Homo sapiens: one gene and its partner. The protein of the gene in region 2 interacts with the protein of the main gene of each other region in a pairwise test. Each region holds a gene or a part of one and is shown on either strand. Other genes may lie near its edges. The genes, in order: GUCD1 and ZNF705D.

Region 1 (8,717 bases), on a different chromosome or scaffold from region 2:
ATGCCTGGCTAATTTTTTGTATTTTTGGTGGAGATGAGCTTTCACCATGTTGCCCAGACTAGGCTCAAACTTCTGAGCTCAAGTGATCTGCCTACCAAGGTTGGGATTACCTTCCAAGGTTGGGATTACAGGTGTTAGTCACCATGCCTGGCCATTTTTTGTTTGTTTGAGACAGGGTCTTGTCCTGTTGCCCAGGCTGGAGTACAGTGGCACAATCACAGCTCACTGCAGCCTTGACCTCCTGGGCTCAGGAGGTCCTGTCACCTCAGCTTCCTGAACAGCTGGGACCACAGGCACGTGCCACCATGCCCGGCTAATTTTTTGTAGAGGCAAGATTTTGCCATGCTGCCCAGGCTAGTCTCAAACTCCTGGGCTCAAATGATCCACCTACCTCAGCCTCTCAAAGTGCTAGGATTACAGGCATGAGCCACTGTGCCCGGCCCCACACAAGTCTTGAACTTCTAGCCTCAAGTGATCCTCCAGCCTTTGCTTCCCAAAGTGCTAGGATTACCGGCGTGAACCACTACACCTGGTCACTTGAAGCTTTTCTAATGGGCAGTACATCTTGCTCCTTCCACCATTCCTTGTAGGAGAGAGTGTCTCCTGAATCCTGGGTGACATCAAAGGATTCAAGTTCTGCCTCCCCTTTATTATTATTATTAATTTTTTGAGACAGAGTTTTGCTCTTGTTGCCCAGGCTGGAGTGCAATGATGTGATCTCAGCTCACCACAACCTCCACCTCCCGGGTTCAAGCAATTCTCCTGCCTCAGCCTCCTGAGTAGCTGGGATTACAGGCATGTGCCACCATGCCCAGCTAATTTTGTATTTTTAGTAGAGATAGGGTTTCTCCATGTTGGTCAGGCTGGTCACGAACTCCCAACCTCAGGTGATCTGCCCGCCTTGGCCTCCCAAAGTGCTGGGATTACAGGCATGAGCCACCGTGCCCGGCCTTCTGCCTCCCCTTTAATGATTACTTTTAGTTCTGAAAAGTACAGGAAAGCTGCTGAAACAGGTATTGTTTTAGCCTACTATCCGTTCACTCACATTTACTGAACATCTACTAGGTGTCAGATACTGGGGCTATAGCAGTGGAGACAGACAAGATGATGTGTTTGAGGGAGGATGGGAAGGAACAGAAGTGCTTCTTTAAAAGTGATGACATTGGCCAGGCACAGTGGCTCATGCCTGTAATCCCAGCACTTTGGGAGACTGAGGCAGGCAGATCACTTGAGGCTGGGAGTTCGAGAGCAGCCTGGCCAACATCATGGTAAAACCTGTGTCTACTAAGAATACAAAAATTAGCCGGGCGTGGTCGTGTGTGCCTGTAATCCCAGCTACTCAGGAGACTGAGGCAGGAGAATTGCTTCAACCCAGGAGGTGGAGGTTGGAGTGAGCCGAGATCGCACTACTGCACTCTTGGTCTGTCTACCTCAACCCCAACTCTGCATGCTCTGAGCAGCCAGCTCCACCCAGCACTCACCATCCCACCCACTTTCGTCTCTCCTGCTTCAACATCTCCCTCATTCTGTTGTGTCTCCTGTAGTTGCATTTGTTGCAGTTCACTTGAGCTGAGCCCCGAGGCCCTTCTACCTCTAGTACTGCCTGTCCAGGACAGGCACAAGCATCCAGGCCTGAACGGGATGGATATGGCCCTAGAAAACAGAAAACAGGATTCCAGTCCCAGCTAAACTGGGTATGGCAAGACAAGGACCTGGGTTCCCATGTGCTCATGCTGAGAACTTGAGAAGGGACAGGAATTCTGCAGATCAACACAGCTTCATAAAGGCCAGCCAGGGGCTACCACCATTTTGCAGTGAGAATAATGTTTATTGAGAATGGCTCATTACAAACAAAATATATATAAAATCTCTGCAATGCAAAAGATCCCTTTCATCCCCGTGGCTAGAATGAACAAAGCCCAACTGTCCCACATGGCTTCAGGTGCTGTGCTGGTCCCCAGCATGTGAACAGGCTGGGCAGCTGTCGGTGTCATGTGCTGTGGGCAAAAGTCCCTGATGTCCAGGCTCTCTGGCTCCATTTTCATGACTTGTGCAAGAATGCAACACAGTGTGTCTTACATCCTGCCTCTGTGACCCTCCCTAGGCAGATGAGTCTTGAGAATGGGCAGCTTTCTCATTCATCTTTCAGGAAGGTGACCTTTAACTTGTGGCATGCCCTGAGAAGCCATCCTCTGGGACCAGAGACTGAGTGTTTCTAAACATTTTGGCTGGACTGAGGTGCTGTTACCACCCTCCATGAAGGCCACTCCCTAGTGACAGCCCTAACAGCATGTGCACTGTCTAAATCACATCCCACCATCCTGAAAACTTCATTTCCTCCCACTGGTTTCCTTCATACAGCTATTCTAACAATTTTACCAGAACACCACCTGAAGATGCCCACACCCCACAGCTGCTGTGCATGGGTACTCCTGGGCCACCTGGCATTAAGGCAATGGAGATGAGACCAGTCTAGAGCCAACACCGGTCTCTGAAACCCAGAAGGGCTGCCCAACTAACAGCACCTCCCTCTTGGCCAAAGGCTTTGTCTAGGGTTGAGAAGCAATTTGGCTGGGTGGTCTCACTGCCCTCCTAAACAGAGCCCACCTCTGCCCCCAGAGTCATCTGTGCTCCAAAGCAATGGGCGGGGGCACAGCTGCCACCATGCCATGCCTTGGGCATTGGAAGAGCAGGACCCAGGAGTGCAGGGATGGTATCACTGTTGCCCCTTTGAAAATGACCCATTTCCCACTTTGGGAGGCCGAGGCAGGTGGATCACCTGAGCTCAGGGGTTCGAGACCAGCCTGGCCAACATGGCGAAGCCTGGTCTCTACTAAAAATACAAAAAAATTAGCCGGGCATGGTGGCATGTGCCTGTAGTCCCAGCTAGTGGGGGGCTGAGGCAGGAGGATCGCTTGAACCCAGGAGGCGGAGGTTGTAGTAAGCCAAGATCGTGCCACTGCACTCCAGTCTGGGCAACAGAGTGAGTCTCCGTCTCAAAAAAAAAAAAAAAAATCCATTTCCTTTAGTTTTTTAGGTGCAGACTGGGGTTCAAGACCCAGCTCCACCACTGTCCTGAGCAGACTCCCAAGACTGGGCCAGCTGCCTCGTCAGCTGCCTCGTCTGAGAGGTGAAGGGGCAGGTACTTAAACCACTGGCCAAGTCCCTTTCTCTGAAAAAGAACTTGAGCTGGCTAACTGCCCTGTGCAGAGGTGTTAGTGGTTCCAAAGTACCTTCACTCTTGCTATTACTGTTTTACTTGAAGGTGATTACCCCTCAAAAATGAAAACTTAAATCTCAAAGAAACAACCCCTGACCCCAACCTCCCCAAAAAAGAGGAAGGAAAGAGCTCTATGCTACTTGCTGTGTTGTAAGATCCTGGGCAGGAACCCCTCTTCTCCATCAAGATAGACAAGACCCAGTATCCTGTGCAATCTGGTGTGAAGACCAGGTTGGGTGGGCAGCTGCAGGCTGCCCCAGCCCGTTGCTTTGGAGCACAGGCCTTAGCAGCCAACCTTAAAGGACTAGGGGCTCCCCACACTCAAGAGGGCAGACCCTGCTGTCAGGATTTTGGCTGGTGTCAGGAGGCCTCCTGGGTGCAGGGATCCCTCTGGGGCTAGGGCAGCTGTTTATTCCCAGAGCACTGCTGCCAGCCACGAGGCCTACCAGTGGGATCTAGGCCCGAGAGCCCTCCATCTGACAGAGCTGGAGGACCTGGAGGGCTGTGGGGGCTTTAAGAGTCTCCAGCGGCCAGGGCTCTGCATGGCAGGGCAGCTGTGAGGTGTGTCTATGCTGGGTGGCAGGGGTCAGATGCCCTGTAATGAGCCACAGAAACTTGGGCCCATGGGTAGGCAGGTGGTGGTGGTATCATCAACCACTGGGCACAGGGGCATATGCAGCACTTCCAGGAGAGAGGGGCCTGGAGGGGTCCTCAGCCCTGGGGGATTGGGGTCAGCTATGCTGTCTCCAGACACTCACATACTGTCCTGACAAGTGGCATCCGTCAAGCAACTTCTCTCTCCAGGCTCAGTCCTGCGGTCTGTGGGGAGACCATTGCCATGGATCTGGCTCAAAGGCAACAAGGGCACTGTCGGGACTGGACTTCCTGTGGGCGCAGCTGGAGTCAAGGCTTGGGGTCTTGGGGTATGCTTCCAGCAGCCAGCAGGTGCTTGGGGTGAGTGACATGACAACACACGGCACTGGCAGACAAAGCAGCTGTGCCAGTCTCCGAGTTCCTGGGACTCTGCCAGATGGGCTGAGGCTGCAGTTCCACATTCCAACCCCAGCAGCCCCAAGCCTGGGCCAGGGCATCCTGAGCGGGCCCGGCTGGGGTGGGGATGGGGTCCGAGGGCCTAGGCGCACCAGGCTCCTGCTGTCAGCTGTCCAAGTAGACAAAGAGGATGTCCTCATCTGTGCCATAGCTGGTTCTGGCCTCCTCAAAGTTACTGATGCTGGTGCTGCACATTCCTGCTGGGGGTGGGGAAGGCAGAACGGGGTCAGTGGGTTGTGAGAGAGCACCTACACCACCGACACAGTGCCCAGGGGAGCTGAGTGAGGTCTGTTTCCCATCCACATGGCCATTCCTCTCAACTCAAGTCCTCCACCCCCAGGAAGCCCTCCTTGCCCATCCTGGTCTTCATGAGGTTTCTCTGACTCCTCCCCAGTAAAGCAGTTGGAGAAAGGCCCAGAGAGGGGCAGAAACGTGCTCCAGGCCACATAGACGGGGTAAGTCTATGTGGTCAGGGCGTCCAGGGGCTGTCTATGTGAATCCAGTCTATGAGAGTCAGGGCAGCCCTTCCCTGTGCCCGGAGGGCAGTAGGCAGGCCAGGATGGGTCTAGAGCAGGGGCTGGGTCTGGCCGGGCTTTTCTTTCTGAGGAATGTGCCGGCCATCCTGGTGGTTGGGGGAGGGGTGCAGCCTGGGCAGCATGAAAGGGTAAGGCAGGGACCTGGGCAGTGGCGTGGGGCCTGTGGTGTGAGAGGGAGGGGTGGCCAGGGTGTAGAGGAGGCTGGCACAGTTTGCGGCAGGTTTGCCTGCATGGCCTGAGGGGTGGCCACAGTGACAAGAGCCCAGGAGGAGCAGGGGCTTTGGGGAAAAGGTAGGGAGGGAGGCCCTGGCCACACTAGATTGAATGGGTGGGAACTGTGGGCACTGGGCATACAGAACAGTGAATGTGGACCACTCTGCCTCACCCACCCCACCCAGCACTCACGGTCGGCATAGGCTGGGTTGTTGTAGAAGATGCAGCCAGTGGCCCGGTTGTAGCCACGCAGCACGATGAAGTGGCCCTGGTAGTCAGGAGTGCGGCAGAAGCAGTGGTGGCCACTGGGGGTGAAGCAGCAGTACTTGACAGGGCTGGAGCACAGGTCACAGTGCAGCACCCCCGAGTTCACCAGCACGATGGCCACATGGCCCTGAGCCAGGTGCGCCTGGATGTCCTTCACACTCACTGTGCTGTGGGCGGGAGGGGGGTCAGCTGGTGCTGCTGGGCCCCCATTCCCCATCCCTCAAATGGATCCCTGCTTGTGCCTGTTTCTCTGTTACAAAGCTTGGGGATCGGCTCCTTTTCCCTTTGCCCTGAACTCCCTGCTCTGTCACTGTGGCCCAGGCTCAGCCTAGAGCCAAGCAGGAGACCGGTGGGGGGGGTGTGTGTGTGTGTCTGAATGTGCACAAAGATGAGCTGGCTCTGTCAGGCCCTTCACGGGGAGAGCATTCAGCTCCAGGTGGGTCCAGTCAAGGGCCACTAGAGCAGCACACAGAAACCATCCTCCTACTGCACCCCAGCCTGGTTAGTGAATTCTTTTTGCCCAGCCCTGTCTCTCCTCTACCCTAAATCATGTGTGGTTTACATTGAAAACTGCCAGCCAAGCATGGCTCAGACACTTTCAAAACCAAATGCTTCTCTGAAAGAGCTATTTTACTTTTTTTCTAAGGCTCCTGGTGGCAGAAGGGGCTGCCCAGGAAGGGCTGGGCCACATTGCTTCCAGGGGAGCTCCAGTTCAGCAATGACATCTACCTGGAGCCTCCCTCACTGGCAGAAGGCACTGCCCCATCCTGTGCCTTCCACTAGGCAGCAAATCCAAATGAAAACCTAGAGCAGGGCTGGGCACAGTGGCTCACACCTGTAATCCCAGTGCTTTGGGAGGCCAAAGCGGAAGGATCGCTTGAGACTAGGAATTAGAGACCAGCCTGGGCAACACAGCAGTACCCTGTCTTTACAAAAACATTTAAAAATTTACCAGGCGTGGGGCGTGGTGGTATGAGATTGTGGTTCCAGCTACTCGGGAGACTGAGGCAAGAAGATCACTTAAGCCTGGGGCTGTAGCAGTGAGCTGTATTGCAATATTGCGCCACAGCACTACAGCCTGTATGACAGATTAAGACCCTGTCTCTTAAAAAAAAAAAAAAGAAAAGAAAAGAAAACACCCAGAGGGACAGAGGGCAGATGGGGCTGTGGGCAGGGGGAGCTCTAGGCCAGGGGCTCCTGCATCTTTGCTGGAGGGGCTGCTCACCCACTTGGGGCCTTCCTTAGGAGTGGCAGCATCAGTACCATGTGGCCTGACCCAGCTTCAGCCACAGCTGAGTCACGTGGCAGTTTGGATTGCTGCCTTGGCCAAGGAAACATGCCATTTTTCCATTTGGTCTTTGAAACAAAATAGCTGGCTGAGTTCCCAGTGGCAGTGCACAGGAGTGGGATTTCAGCTATAGGGAAAAAGCAGGGGCTTGGCTGGAAGGAAAAACTACAGGCTTCAAGGAATAACAAGCATGGGTTCAGATCATGGCATGGCCAAGATGCTGGGGGTGACCTTGGGTGTCTCTCTCCTCCTCAGTTTCCTCCCCCGAGAAGCAGAGATAGCAACAGCTTTCCCACTCAAGGAGACAGCACCTGTTGAGGGCTGCTAAATAAACATTTGCTGCCTTTCCTTCCAACATGTGCCCATGTGGTCATAGTATGAATGGAGATCCCACCCCACTATATTCTTTTTTTTTTTGAGACAGAGTCTGTCTCTGTTGCCCAGGCTGGAGTGCAGTGGCGCGATCTCGGCTCACTGCAAGCTCCGCCTCCTGGGTTCATGCCATTCTCCTGCCTCAGCCTCCCGAGTAGCTGGGACTACAGGCACCCGCCACTGCGCCCAGCTAATTTTTTGTATTTTTAGTAGAGACGGGGTTTCACCATGATCTCGATCTCCTAACCTCGTGATCCGCCCGCCTCGGCCTCCCAAAGTGCTGGGATTACAAGCGTGAGCCACCGTGCCCGGCCTGTTTTGTTGATTTTTAAAGCCCGGGGCAGTACTCTTGGAAAATGTCCCACATCCTGGATTTGCCTTTCTGTTTCCTTGAGGGCAGATTCAGACAGAGTCTCGCTCTGTCCCCCAGGCCGGAGTGCAGTGGCACTATCTCGGCTCACTGCAAGCTCCGCCTCCTGGGTTCAGGCCATTCTCCTGCCTCAGCCTCCCGAGTAGCTGGGACTACAGGCGCCTGCCACCACGCCCGACTAATTTTTTGTATTTTTAGTAGAGACAAGGTTTCACCGTGTTAGCCAGGATGGTCTCGATCTCCTGACCTCGTGATCCGCCCACCTCAGCCTCCCAAAGTGCTGGGATTACAGGCGTGAGCCACCGCGCCCGGCCCCCAAACCCCCATTTTCTAAATCACCTATCATGTGATTATACTACGTCAATAATGAAAATATAAATCCGCAAAGAAAGGGAAAATCTGAGAAGAGCCTGTCCAGGACCTAGAGGCAGCAGGTCTGAGCCCCACTCCCACGTAGCCCAGAAAAGAATGTGACCCACATCTGGGCAAACTGCACCCAGAGTCTTCCTGAATCCAGCCCCAATGCATACAGATGAGAAGAGGAGGCCCTTGTAAGGTCACAGCAGCCCTTACACACTGGGTCCTCCCTGTTCCCCATCCCTTGTCAATCACTGCACCAGCACATTCCTCTTAGGCCATCGCCCTTTCATTAGGGGCCTTGTGTTCTGTCCCATGCTGTCTTTCTGCAAGTAGCCCAAGGGCTGGGTGCAATCTCTCTCACTCACCTATCCCTCCAGCACCTGCTCAGGATCCACCCCTGGTCAGAGCCTGGGTCATGTAGCCCCAGTGAGCTCCATAAACCAAGGCTCAAGGGGGCAAGTCAGTGCCCACAGCCACCCGGGTAGCCAGTTCTGCCTGGCTCCAGAGTCCTAGCCTTTCCTGAACACCATCCCGAGGCCTCCCCACTGCAGATCTGTGGGTGAGCAGGCATGAGAGGAAGGGCAGGTAGGAAAGTTGGGGGGCTCACCATTTCTCCACCAGCACCTTGCAGGCCTTTGCTTGTGCAAACAGCTGATTCACCCGGGTCTCTTCTGTGTCAAAGTGCTTCCTGTAGAAGGACTGAACAGAGAAGAGGGGGATGGAGTGGCCACCACCCAGGCTGCCTTCACTCCATTTAGATGAAGGAAATAAAGAGCGTGTTACAGAGGCAGAGACAGCAGGAGGGCAGAGGAGCCCCACCTGCCAGGGCAGACGGTACATGCAGCAAGCCAGATCAGAAAGCTGTCTGTCCTAAGCAGGAGCAGGGAAGCAGGACCACACAGAGGCATGAGGATGATGCTTGAGAGAGGGGTGGGCAGCTGGGCTCAGGTCAGCTCTCTGGGGAGGATCGATCACCCTTGGGCTTGTACACTCTGGCAGGCATGAGCAGGAGCCCGTAGCGAATAAGCAAGGGGGATGAGG
Region 2 (11,274 bases):
AATCTAAATTATAAAAAGAGTTGCACTCAGAATAAAGGCAATTTCTTCAGCACCCTTTTCGGAGGCAAATCCCTGGGTCTGTACATGTATGCCTGGCCAAGATTCAGGGAATTCCTTCAGTTCCCAGCTTTCACTGGGCATAATCATTCAGCATTTTCTGCCATCTTTTAAAACACTGTATTGGCTTCCTATGGCTGCTATCACAAATTACAACAAACTTAGTGACTTAAAGCAACACAAATGCATTATCTGACAGTTCTATAGGCTGCAGGTTTCAGATGGATCTCTGTGGGCCAACATCAAGGTGTCAGCAGGGCTGAGCTTTCTTCTGGAAGCTCTGCAGTTTTCTTCCTGCACCTTTATCCCAGCAATGACAGGCTACTCCTGGGAACCATAGCTTCCTTCATCCATTTTCAAAGCCAGCAATGGAGCATTGAGTCCTCACATTCCATCATTCTGAATTCATCTTCTCCCCACTCTTCCATTTTTTAGGACTCATGATTACGTTGGGCCCACCTGGATAATCTAAGATAATCTCCCTATTTTAAGGTCAGCTGATTAACAGCCTTAATTTCACATGAAACCTCAATTCCCCTTTGCCTTACAAGGTGGCACATTCACAGGACCCAGGAGTTAGGATGTGGATAGCTTTGGCAGGAGACAGAGGGGACATTATTCTGCCTACAACAGCCACTGAGTGCTTTTACCACCTGTCACAATTTTGCTCCATTTAGACACAATTTTAGTGGCTTTGTGTGAAGAGATTCTCATTCATAGAGTTTTCTTTTTTGTGTAAAGTAGTGAGGGGCCTCCCCTTGGTCATTGAAAGAGTATAGAATCAAGATATTTAAAAGTATATTAGCTGGATTTTATTTTTCACTATGACTGATTTGGCCAAGAAACAATGTTAAGTTATGTCACATGGACTACTCGAAATCTCAAAAAGTTCAAAACATTGGGTTCAAAATCTCAGAGATTGAGATATATTCCAACCAACTCAACCCTGTGGAAGTGCCAAGTTTTCCTCAGTGCCACTCTTGAAACCGCATCACCAACTGACCCTTTAATATATTTTTGCACTATATAACATTTATTTCTTAGAGTAAGTGCTTCCCTAGAAAAGAAGCAGTTTGGACACGTATATTAAAGCCGTCACCTAGAATATTATCTTCTCATTGCTAGGAGGTGGCCTTCAAGATGGCTGACTAGAGGTACCAGGCACTGTGTCCTCCCAAAGAAAGACCAAAACAGCAAGTAGATAATCATACCTTGAAGAGGGCATGAAAGAGGGCACTAGAATTCAGCAGCAAAGTGACGAGGAATCTCTGAGGCATGGAAGGAAAGGAAAATGAAGCAGCAGCCCAGCCAGAATCAGCTTAAAGCCAGGACAGGCTCTGCAGTGTGGTGAAAAGGTAAAAAAGAGAGCCCCAGTGGTCCATATTCCCACTGTGGACACTGCAATCCTAGCCAAGGGACGGTCTCTCAGCCCTCGCAGGCCCTGAGACTACTATAGGGAGCTGCCTGGAGTGTATGTGATGGTCATTGTCCCAGAGAAGGAGTTGGCACTGGATCATCTGCACCTGCCCCCAGACACAGGCAGCTGTGGCACAATGCCAATTTGAGAGCCCAGCCCCCAAAAGACTACATCCTGCCCTGGGGCCCAACAGCCCCTGCATCTCCACATCTCTGGACCCTCAGTGACATTCCCTCATGTCCATCCAGAGGCCTGCAGAGTCACAATACCAGCTGAACTCACCAGTGTAGCTTGGTCCCCATCACTCTAGCCTACACAGTGTCCTACACTCCAGGGAACTGGCAGTGCCATTCACTAGAGAGGCTGCCCCCAGAACAAAGGGAGCTGAAGCAGGCACTCTTCACAAGTGGAGAGTCACCTTCCCAGGACCACTGACACTGACAGCAATCCTGACCCCCAGGAGCAGGGCCACTGCACACCTGCAGGCATCCTCAGGGGACCTGGGGACTCACCTGCCTGAGCACTATTCCAGGGCCAGAGCACAGGCCCATCCCACCCATTGCTGTCACTACCACTACCCAAGGTCGTTGTCCAGGACGCTGGGGATCAACCCACACTGCTGTCTGTCATTGGCACCTGTGCATGCCTTCTTGTGACCTAAGTATGAGCCCACCCAGCCTGGTGGTGCCTGTGCACATTGTCTGGGAGCCTGGGGATTAATCCACCATGCCTATCACCATCAAGTACCTGTGTGTCTCCTGAGAGCCTAAGGATAGGACTTCCCAGCCTGCCATCACGGCTGCCACCAATGCCCACATATTTGCACCAGGTGAAAGCCTGAGGACTACTCTGTCCATCATGTTGCCACGACTGTTGGTGTCTGCACATGCCATCTGGGGTCACAAGAGTTGACCTGCTATGACTACAGCACAGGGTCTTGAGGGCATGCCTATCTCCCTAGCTCACCACTGTCACTGCTGGCACTTGAGAAAGCCACCTGACTCACGCCTGTAATCCCAGCACTTTGGAAGGCTGAAGGGGGCAGATCACCTGAGGTCGGGAGTTCAAGACCAGCCTGACCAACATGGAGAAACTCCATCTCTACTAAAAAAAAAAAACAAAAAAAAAAAAATACAAAATTAGCCGGGCATGGAGGTGCATGCCTGTAATCCCAGCTACTCGGGAGGCTGAGGCAGGAGAATTGCTTGAACCTGGGAGGCGGAGGTTGCAGTGAGCTGAGAACACACCATTGCACACCAGCCTGGGCAACAGAGCAAAACTTCATCTCAAAAAAAAAAAAAAAAGCCACCTGAAGGCCCAAGGATGGCCTGCCTGAAACTTCAACCACTGGTGCCCACGTTCATCACCCACAAGTTCAAAGACCAATGCAACTGGTGCCCAAGGACCAAACTGCCTGGCCTGTCTTTCCCCAGCAAAATCTCACCACAGCCTCCATTAACAATGAAGGCTAAGACACTGAGGAGCTCACAGACATCAGTGATGCTGATTATAGCTGAAGAAATCATAGAAGTATAAACTACTGAACCAACTCAGAACTAAAGGCAAAGTGTCTTACTGATTCAACAGTATAGATACAGCTACAGAAGTCAGTCTTTTACTACCAAAGCCAATCTATAAAATTAGAAGAAGCAACTGTTTTACCAGATATTCAAATATCAATGTAAGGACATAAGAAACATTAAAGAGCAAGGAAACATAGCATCCCTGAAGGAAAACCAATAATTCTCCAGCAACAGATTTCAATCAAACAAATCCATAAAATGAGTGAAAAGGAATTTAACAGCTGAAATTGAATAATTCAATAAATAAAATAAATAATACAATTTGAGAACCTCAACAATAGACTAGATTAAGAAGATGAAAGAATTTCTAAACATAAAGATCGGTCTTCATATGCAGGATTAAATGGATTAAAGACTTAAGTGTGAAACACAAAACTATAAAAACCCTGGAAGACAACCTAGGCAATACCATTCAGGACATAGGCACGGGCGAAAATTTTATAACAATGACACCAAAAGCAATTGTGACAAAAGCAAAAATTGACGAATGGGATGTAATTAAACTAAGGAGCTTCTGGGCAGCAAAAGAAACTATTAACAGAGCAAAAAGACAACCTGCAGAATGGGAGAAAACTTTTGCAAGCTATGCATTCGACAAAGATCCAATATACAGCATCTACAAGGAACTTAAAGAAATTTACAAAAAAAAAAAACCTTTAAAAATAGGCAAAAACATGATCAGACGCTTCTCAAAAGAAGACATACATGCTGCCAACAATCATATGAAAAAAAAAGCTCAAGGGTCATGAGGGATTATGACAGACAGGAGGCAGAACTAGATGGCAGCTCTGGACAGAGCAGCATGCGGAGGCTTGCGTTGTGAATTTTAGCTCCAGATGGACTGCAAGAGCAGACCAGCAATCCTGACAGGACCCACAGACCCTCCGAAGGAAGCAGACTGCTCTTGCAGGACCTGGGAGACACCCCAAATACTTTAAGTCCCCTAACCACGGAAATGGGAAAGGGAGACCCTCGTCTCATGAACACACACCCCCACTGGAGAAGCTGAAAGTCTGTTTGTGGGAGAAGTTCGTGACTTTACCTGGAGCTGAGTCAAGTTAGAGAGCCGAGCTGAGCAACATACAGGAGTAGAGGAAGTAGCACAAAGGCACTGGAAGGCCGCTGGATCCCCAAGTAGCCCATTCCTGCCTGGCACGGCAGACATCCATCGGGGGGGTGGCCAGAGGAGCAGGGGGTAAAACTTCACAGGGAGAAGAACCTCTCTAGCTGAACTTTGTAAAAAATTGAATGGGGCTGGAAGCCTCCTGGCCAGAACTCGGGGGAGGGCGTGAATCAGGCTTGCAGACTTCACAGGCGGGGTAAGAACTGAAGCCCATTTCTTTGTCAGTCGGGAGGCAGAAAGCCTCAGGTAAGTTTTCAAGCCAGATTCGCCTTCGGCCTGGAAACAGACTCCGGGCTATCACAAGGGGCATTGTGGGAGTGAGACCCGCCTTTCAGCGTGCCTGGAAGCTAGCTTTCCCCAACTTCCCTGACAACCTGCATGACTCAGCAGAGGCAGCCATAATCCTTCTAGGTACACAACTCCACTGACCTGGGAATCTCACCTCCATCCCCCACAGCAGCCAAAGCAAGACCCACCCAAGGAGAGTCTGAGCTCAGGCACGCCTAGCCCCACCCCCACCTGATGGTCCTTCCATATCCACCCTGGTAGCAGAAGACAAAGAACATACGATCTTTGGAGTTCTGGAGCCCTGCCCACCACTGGTCCCTCTCCACAGTGTCCGGAATTGGTGGGTTCTTGGTCTCGCTGAGTTTAAGAATGAAGCCGCAGACCCTCCTGGTGAGTGTTAACAATTCTTAAAGATGGTGTGTCCAGAGTTGCTTATTCCTCCCAGTGGGTTCATGGTCTGGCTGGCCTCAGAAGTGAAGTTGCAGACCTTCGCAGTGAGTGTTACAGCGCTTAAAGGCGGCACGAAACCAAAGAGTGAGCAGCAGCAAGCTATGTTGCAAAAAGCGAAAGAACAAACTTCCCACAGAATGGAAGGGGACCCAAGCCTGTTGAGCTGTGGGCTCCGGTGGCCTGCTTTTATTCCCTTGTCTGGCCCCCATCCATATCCTGCTGATTGGTCCATTTTACAGAGAGCTGATTGGTCCGTTTTGACAGAGTGCTGACTGGTGTATTTACAAACCTTTAGCTAGACAGAGTGCTGATTGGTGCATTTAAAATCCTTTAGCTGGACACAAAAGTTCTTCAAGTCCCCCACCAGATTAGCTAGACCCAGAGCGCTGATTGGTGCATTTACAAAGTTTTAGCTAGACACAGAGTGCTGATTGGTGCTTTTACAATCATTTAGCTAGACAGAAAAGTTCTCCAAGTCCCCAGCGGGCCCAGAAGCCCAGCCGGCTTCACCTCTTGATGGCACTCGCCAGACAGGACTTTGCAGCACCCAGCCCTGGCACTCCAGCAGCCTAGAGAGAGCTCATCCCCCGGTCAAGCCCAGCAGGCACCGGCCAGCCGCCTCAAGTGTGGGGCCCACCGAGCCCGCGCCCACGCAGAACCCGCGCCAGCCCACAAGGGCCACACGCAGCCCCGGCTCCCACCACGGCCTCTCCCTCCACACCCTGCGAGCAGAGGGAGCCGGCTCCGGCCTTGACCAGCCCCAGAGAGGGACCCCCACAGTGCAGTGGCGGGCTGAAGGGCTCCTCGAGTGCAACCAGAGTGGACGCCGAGGCCAAGGAGGCACTGAGAGCAAGCGAGGGTTGCTAGCATGTTGTCATCTCTCAACACTACTACAGCGGATGCTTTCTGGAAAGCGCCATCTCCCAGCAGGAGGCCCATCAGCACAAAAAATAGAGCCTTAAACCACCAAAATGGTGGAAGCAGTTTGAAAAACAGGTTGGCAGTTTTCAAAGAATTAAAAATAGAGTTAGCATATAACCCAGCAATTCCACTCTTAGGTATATACTTAAGAAAAAAGTTTGTACGTAAGAGTTGAAAAATTCTCAGTGAATTCTTATAGCAGCGTTATTCATAATAGTAAAAAAGCTGAAATAACCCAAATGCCCATCAGCTGATAAATATATAAACACATTGTGGTATATTTATATAATACAGTATTATTTATTGATAGAAGGAATGAAATAGCTATATATCCTACAACGTGGATGACCCCCATGGAGTCATCAGAACACCACCATCATTCTTCAGAGTTAGTAAAAACAATTCTAAAATTCATATGGAACAAAAAAAGAGCCCACATATCCAAAGCAAGACAAAGCAATAAGAACAAATCTGGAGGCATCACACTACCTGATTTCAAAGTATGCTATAAGATCATAGTCACCAAAACAGTGTGGTACCAGAAAAATATATACATCAAAATATGTGCACTTTAATAACATAGCATCAAATTTATAAAACAAAAATTGAGCAACCTACAAGGAAAAATGAAAAAATTCCAAACTATAGTGGGAGATTATAACTTATTTTTCTTAGTCATTCAAAGAAAAAGAAGACTTTAAACATCAATAATACATTGGATGTTAATAAAAATTTACTATTTTTGTGAAGGAAATAATTACAAATAACTTCATTCAACAACTACAGAATACAGTTTTAATAGGACATATTGAATATGCACAAATATTGACCATATAACGATTTGTTCTACATGCCAAATCTTAACAAAAGTCAAATAACTGACACTCTACAGAAAGTGTTCATTTATCACACTGATATGAAATTATAAGAAACTGTTCTAAAACCCAGTTAATTAAAGAAAAAAATCTTAGTGAAAAAATAAATATATTGAAATTAAAATATTACTTATTAAAACTTTTTGGATTCCATTGGTATAATATTAAAGAGGAAATTCAGGGTCATAATTGCTAATATTAGAAAATAATAATGGTGAGTCTTTGGCAATACCATCATGAACACTCCTGATCTCATCTGATCTCAGAAGAAAATAATAATAGAAAACAGAAACATCTCAGTCTTTGCAGTATGAATTACAAAGAAAATAAAATGCACAAATAAAAGTAACAGGAAAAAAGGAAGCATCTTTAAATATGCAAAACCATTAACGAAACTTGACAAAATTAACTCAAGATGAAACAGAAAATAAGAATGTTTTCCTGAATTAATAAAGCAACTAATTCTGTAATCAATAACCTTCCAAAAAAGAGGGCACTTAACTTATATTTTCAACCACATTTCAGAAATTTAAAAAATTGTAATTATATCCAACTCTTCTAAGAAAAAAAGAAAAAGGGACACTCCAAAACATCGTATTTATCAAAACAATTTTTATTAAGATAATATTCACACAATGAAATATTCACTATTTCAACCATTTTGATTTGTTTAATTTAATAGATGTTAGTATATTTACAATGTTGTGCAGCCATCACCACTATTTGATTCCAAAACCTTTCCATCACCCCAAAAAGAAACTCCTTCTCTAATCCCCAGAAACTACTAATTTGTTTTCTATCTTTATAGATTTGACTATTCTGGACAGTACATAACTGGAATTATAAAATATATACCCATTTGTGTCTGCCTTCCATAACTTAACATAATTTTTCAAGGTCATCCAAGTTGTAGGATATATAGCTATTTCATTCCTTCTATCAATAAATAATACTGTGTTATATAAATATACCACATTGTGTTTATATATTTATCAGCTGATGGGCATTTGGGTTATTTCAGGTTTTTTTACTATTATGAATAATGCTGCTATGAGAATTCATTGAGAATTTTTCAACTCTTAGGTAGAAACTATTTTCTTAAGTATATACCTAAGAGTAGAATTGCTGGGTTATATGGTGACTCTATTTTTAATTCTTTAAGAAATGCCAACCTGTTTTTCAAACTACCTCCACCATTTTATGTTTCCATCAGAAATGTATGAGAATCCAATTTCTCCACATTTTCCACAACACTTGTTATTTTCCATCTTTCTTGATAATAGTTATTCCACTCGATATCAAATGGTATCTCATTGTGGTTTTTTCATTTCCCTTTCATGTGCTTATAGCCCACTTAAATATCTTTTTCAAAAAACTATTCAAATCTTTTGATCATTTCTTAGATCATTTGTGTTTTATTGTCGTTGTTGCTGCTGCTGATTTGTAGTAGTTCTTTATATATTCTGGATATTAATCCAATTTTCAAATATTTTTCTCATATTCATTGGGCTTTTTTCCCCTTCCTTGGCAGTATCCTTTAATGCACTCAAATTTTTAACTTAAATGAAGTCCAATTTAACTATTTTTTGTGGCTATGTTTTTGGTGTCATATTTAAGAAAGCATTGCCTAATCTAAGGTCACAAATATTTGTACCATTTTTTCCTAAACATTTACAATTTTAGTTATCACATTAAGGTCTTTGGTCAGTTTTGAATTAATTCTCATATATGGCATGAGGTAGACAAATTTTTCCTTTTACATGTGGATATCCAGTTGTCCCAGCACCATTTGTTGAAGACTATTCGTTCCTCATTAAATGCTCTTGGCACCCTTGTTGAAAATCAATTGCATGTAGATGAATGGGTTTATTTCTGAACTTTAAATTTGATTTTATCAGTCTATATGTCTATTCTTACACCATTATCACACTGTTCAGATTATTGTGACTTTGAGGTAAGTTTTGAAATTGAGAAATTTGAGTGCTCCCACTTTGTTCTTCTATTTCAAAATTGTTTTGGATATTTAATCGTCTTTTCATTTCTATATAAATTTTAGAATAATTTTTGTCAATTTCTGCAAAAAGACAGAATTTTGATAGGGGTTGCATTAAATCTGTAAATCAATTTGGGAAGTATTTTCAGTTAAATTATATTAAATCTTCCAACTCATGAGCATGAGAAATCTTTCCATTCACTTGGGTCTTCTTTTTCTTTCAAAAATATTTTGTAGACTCAGCGGACAAGTCTTACACTTCCTTCATTGCACTATTTCCTATGTATTTAATGTTTTATGCTATTGTAAGTATCATTGTTTTCTTCATTTAACTTCCAAGTTGTTCATTCCTATTACAGAAAAGAAATGCAGCTGATTTTTGCATATTGATCTAGTATCTTCAAACTTTGTTGAAATTGTTTATTAGCCCTAATAGATTTTTGTGAATTCTTTTGAGTATTCTACATGTAATATCATTTCATGGCTTAATGGAGATAATAATGCTTCTTCCTTTCCTCCGAATGCCTTTAGTTTCTTCTTAGCCTAATTGCCTTTGCTAGAACTTTCAGCACATTGTTGAACGGAAGTGTCAAGGGCAGACATTCTTTTCTTGTTCCTGTTTTTAGGAGAAAACCTTTTAGTCTTTCACTATTAGGTATGATGTTAGCTACACTTTTCTTATCGATGCTCGTTATCAGGGTGAGAAAATTGTCTTGGATTTATGATTTCTTGAGTGTCATCATGAAAGGACACTAGATTTTGTCAAATAATTGTTTATGTCTTTTGAGACGATTGTGGCTTTTTTTCCCTTTATTCTACTAATATTGATTGATTTTGCAGATTTAAAAAAACTTCTTTTTTTTCTTCTTTTTTTTTTTTTTTTGAGACAGGGTCTTGCTGTGTCACCCAGGCTGGAGGGCAGTGGTGCAATCTCACCTCACTGCAGCCTCTGCTTCTCGGGTTCAAGCGATTCTCTTGCCTCAGCCACCGGAGTAGCTGAAATTACAGTCGTGCGCCACCGCGCCCAGCTAAATTTGTATCTTTAGTGGAGATGGAGTATTGCCATGTTGGCCAGGCTGGTCTCGAACTCCTGGCCTCAAGTGACCTGCCTGCCTTAGCCTCCCAAAGTGCCGGGATTACCGGCTTGAGCCACCGCCCACAAGCCAATTCTTAAAATAAATTGCACTTGGTTGTGGTGTATAATCCTTCTAATGTATTGCTAGATTCCATTTTAAAGTATTTTGTTAAGAATTTTTGTATCTTTATTTATAAAGAATACTGGACTAGTTTTCATTTCTGGTAATGTCTTTGTCTTGCTTTCATATCAGGGTAATACTGGTCACATAAAATTAGTTTGGAAATGTGTCATAATTTTTTAAAGACTGTAGGAAAGCTTAGCCTTCATTATTCTTTAAACGTGATTAAATTCACTAGTACAGCCATCTGGTCCTGGATTATATTTTTGGAAGTTTTTGATCACAGACTCACTACCGTCACTTGTTATATGTCTATCTGTATTTTTTATTTCTTCTTGACTCAGTTTTGGTAGTTTATTTGTAGAAATTGTCCATCATTTTATTTAGGGTATCTAATTTGTTGACATACAATTATTCATAGGGTTCTCTTATAATTTCTTTTATCTATGTAAGTTGGGTAGTAGTATCCCCACTCTTTTTTTTTTTTTTTTTTTTTTTTTTTTGAGACAGAGTCTCGCTTTGTTGCCCAGGCTGGAGTGCAGTGGCGCCATCTCCGCTCACTGCAAGCTCTGTCTCCTGGGTTCACGCCATTCTCCTGCATCAGCCTCCGAAGTAGCTGGGACTCCAGGCGCCCGCCACCACGCCCGGCTAATTTTTTGTATTTTTTTAGTAGAGACGGGGTTTCACCATGTTAACCAGGATGGTCTTGATCTCCTGATCTCGTGATCTGCCTGCCTCAGCCTCCCAAAGTGCTGGGATTACAGGCGTGATCCACCGCGCCTGGCCTTTATTTTTAATTTTAGTAATTTATGTATTCTTCCTTTTTTCCTTGGTCAGTATAGCAAAAGGTTAGTCAAGTTTCTCGATCTTTTCAAATAATCAACTTTTGGTTTTGTTGATTTCTCTACTGTTTTGTTATTCTCTATTTCACTTTGCTCTAATATTTATTATTTTATTTTTCCTGCTTGCTGTGAATTTAATTAGTTCTTCTTTTCCTGGGTTCTGAATTTCGAATGTTAGCTATCTATTTTATTCATTCTTTTTTAAGGTAAGGGTTTACATCTATAAATTTTTATCTGAGCTTAGCTTTTGCTGCATCCCTGATTGTATTTTCATTTTCGTTCTTCTCCAAGTATTTTTCAATTCCCTTTGTGATTTCTTCTTGGACACATTGGTTATGTAGGGGTATGGTGTTTAATTCTCACATATTTGTGAATTTTTCAGTTTTTTTTTTCTGTTACTGATTTTTAGTTTCATCCCACAGTGATTGGAGAAAGTATTTTGTATGATTTTAATATTTTAAAATTTTCTGAGATTTATTTTATGGCCTAACGTGGACTATTCTGGAGACTGTTTTGTGTTTACTTAAGA

Evidence for each region.
Region 1: the proteins of ZNF705D (region 2) and GUCD1 interact in binary tests that used the Homo sapiens proteins (3 or more experiments, as listed by UniProt).

The regions. Positions count from the first base shown.
Region 1 is NC_000022.11:24,538,631-24,547,347, forward strand, and holds the end of GUCD1 (protein GUCD1), read right to left. Parts: intron 8,376-8,717; coding exon 8,284-8,375; intron 5,454-8,283; coding exon 5,212-5,453; intron 4,471-5,211; coding exon of another isoform or gene 4,468-4,470; coding exon 4,376-4,467; 3' UTR 1,808-4,375; downstream 1-1,807.
Region 2 is NC_000008.11:12,083,118-12,094,391, reverse strand, and holds the start of ZNF705D (zinc finger protein 705D), read right to left. Parts: upstream 5,055-11,274; 5' UTR 4,749-5,054; intron 1-4,748. UniProt on the Homo sapiens protein: May be involved in transcriptional regulation.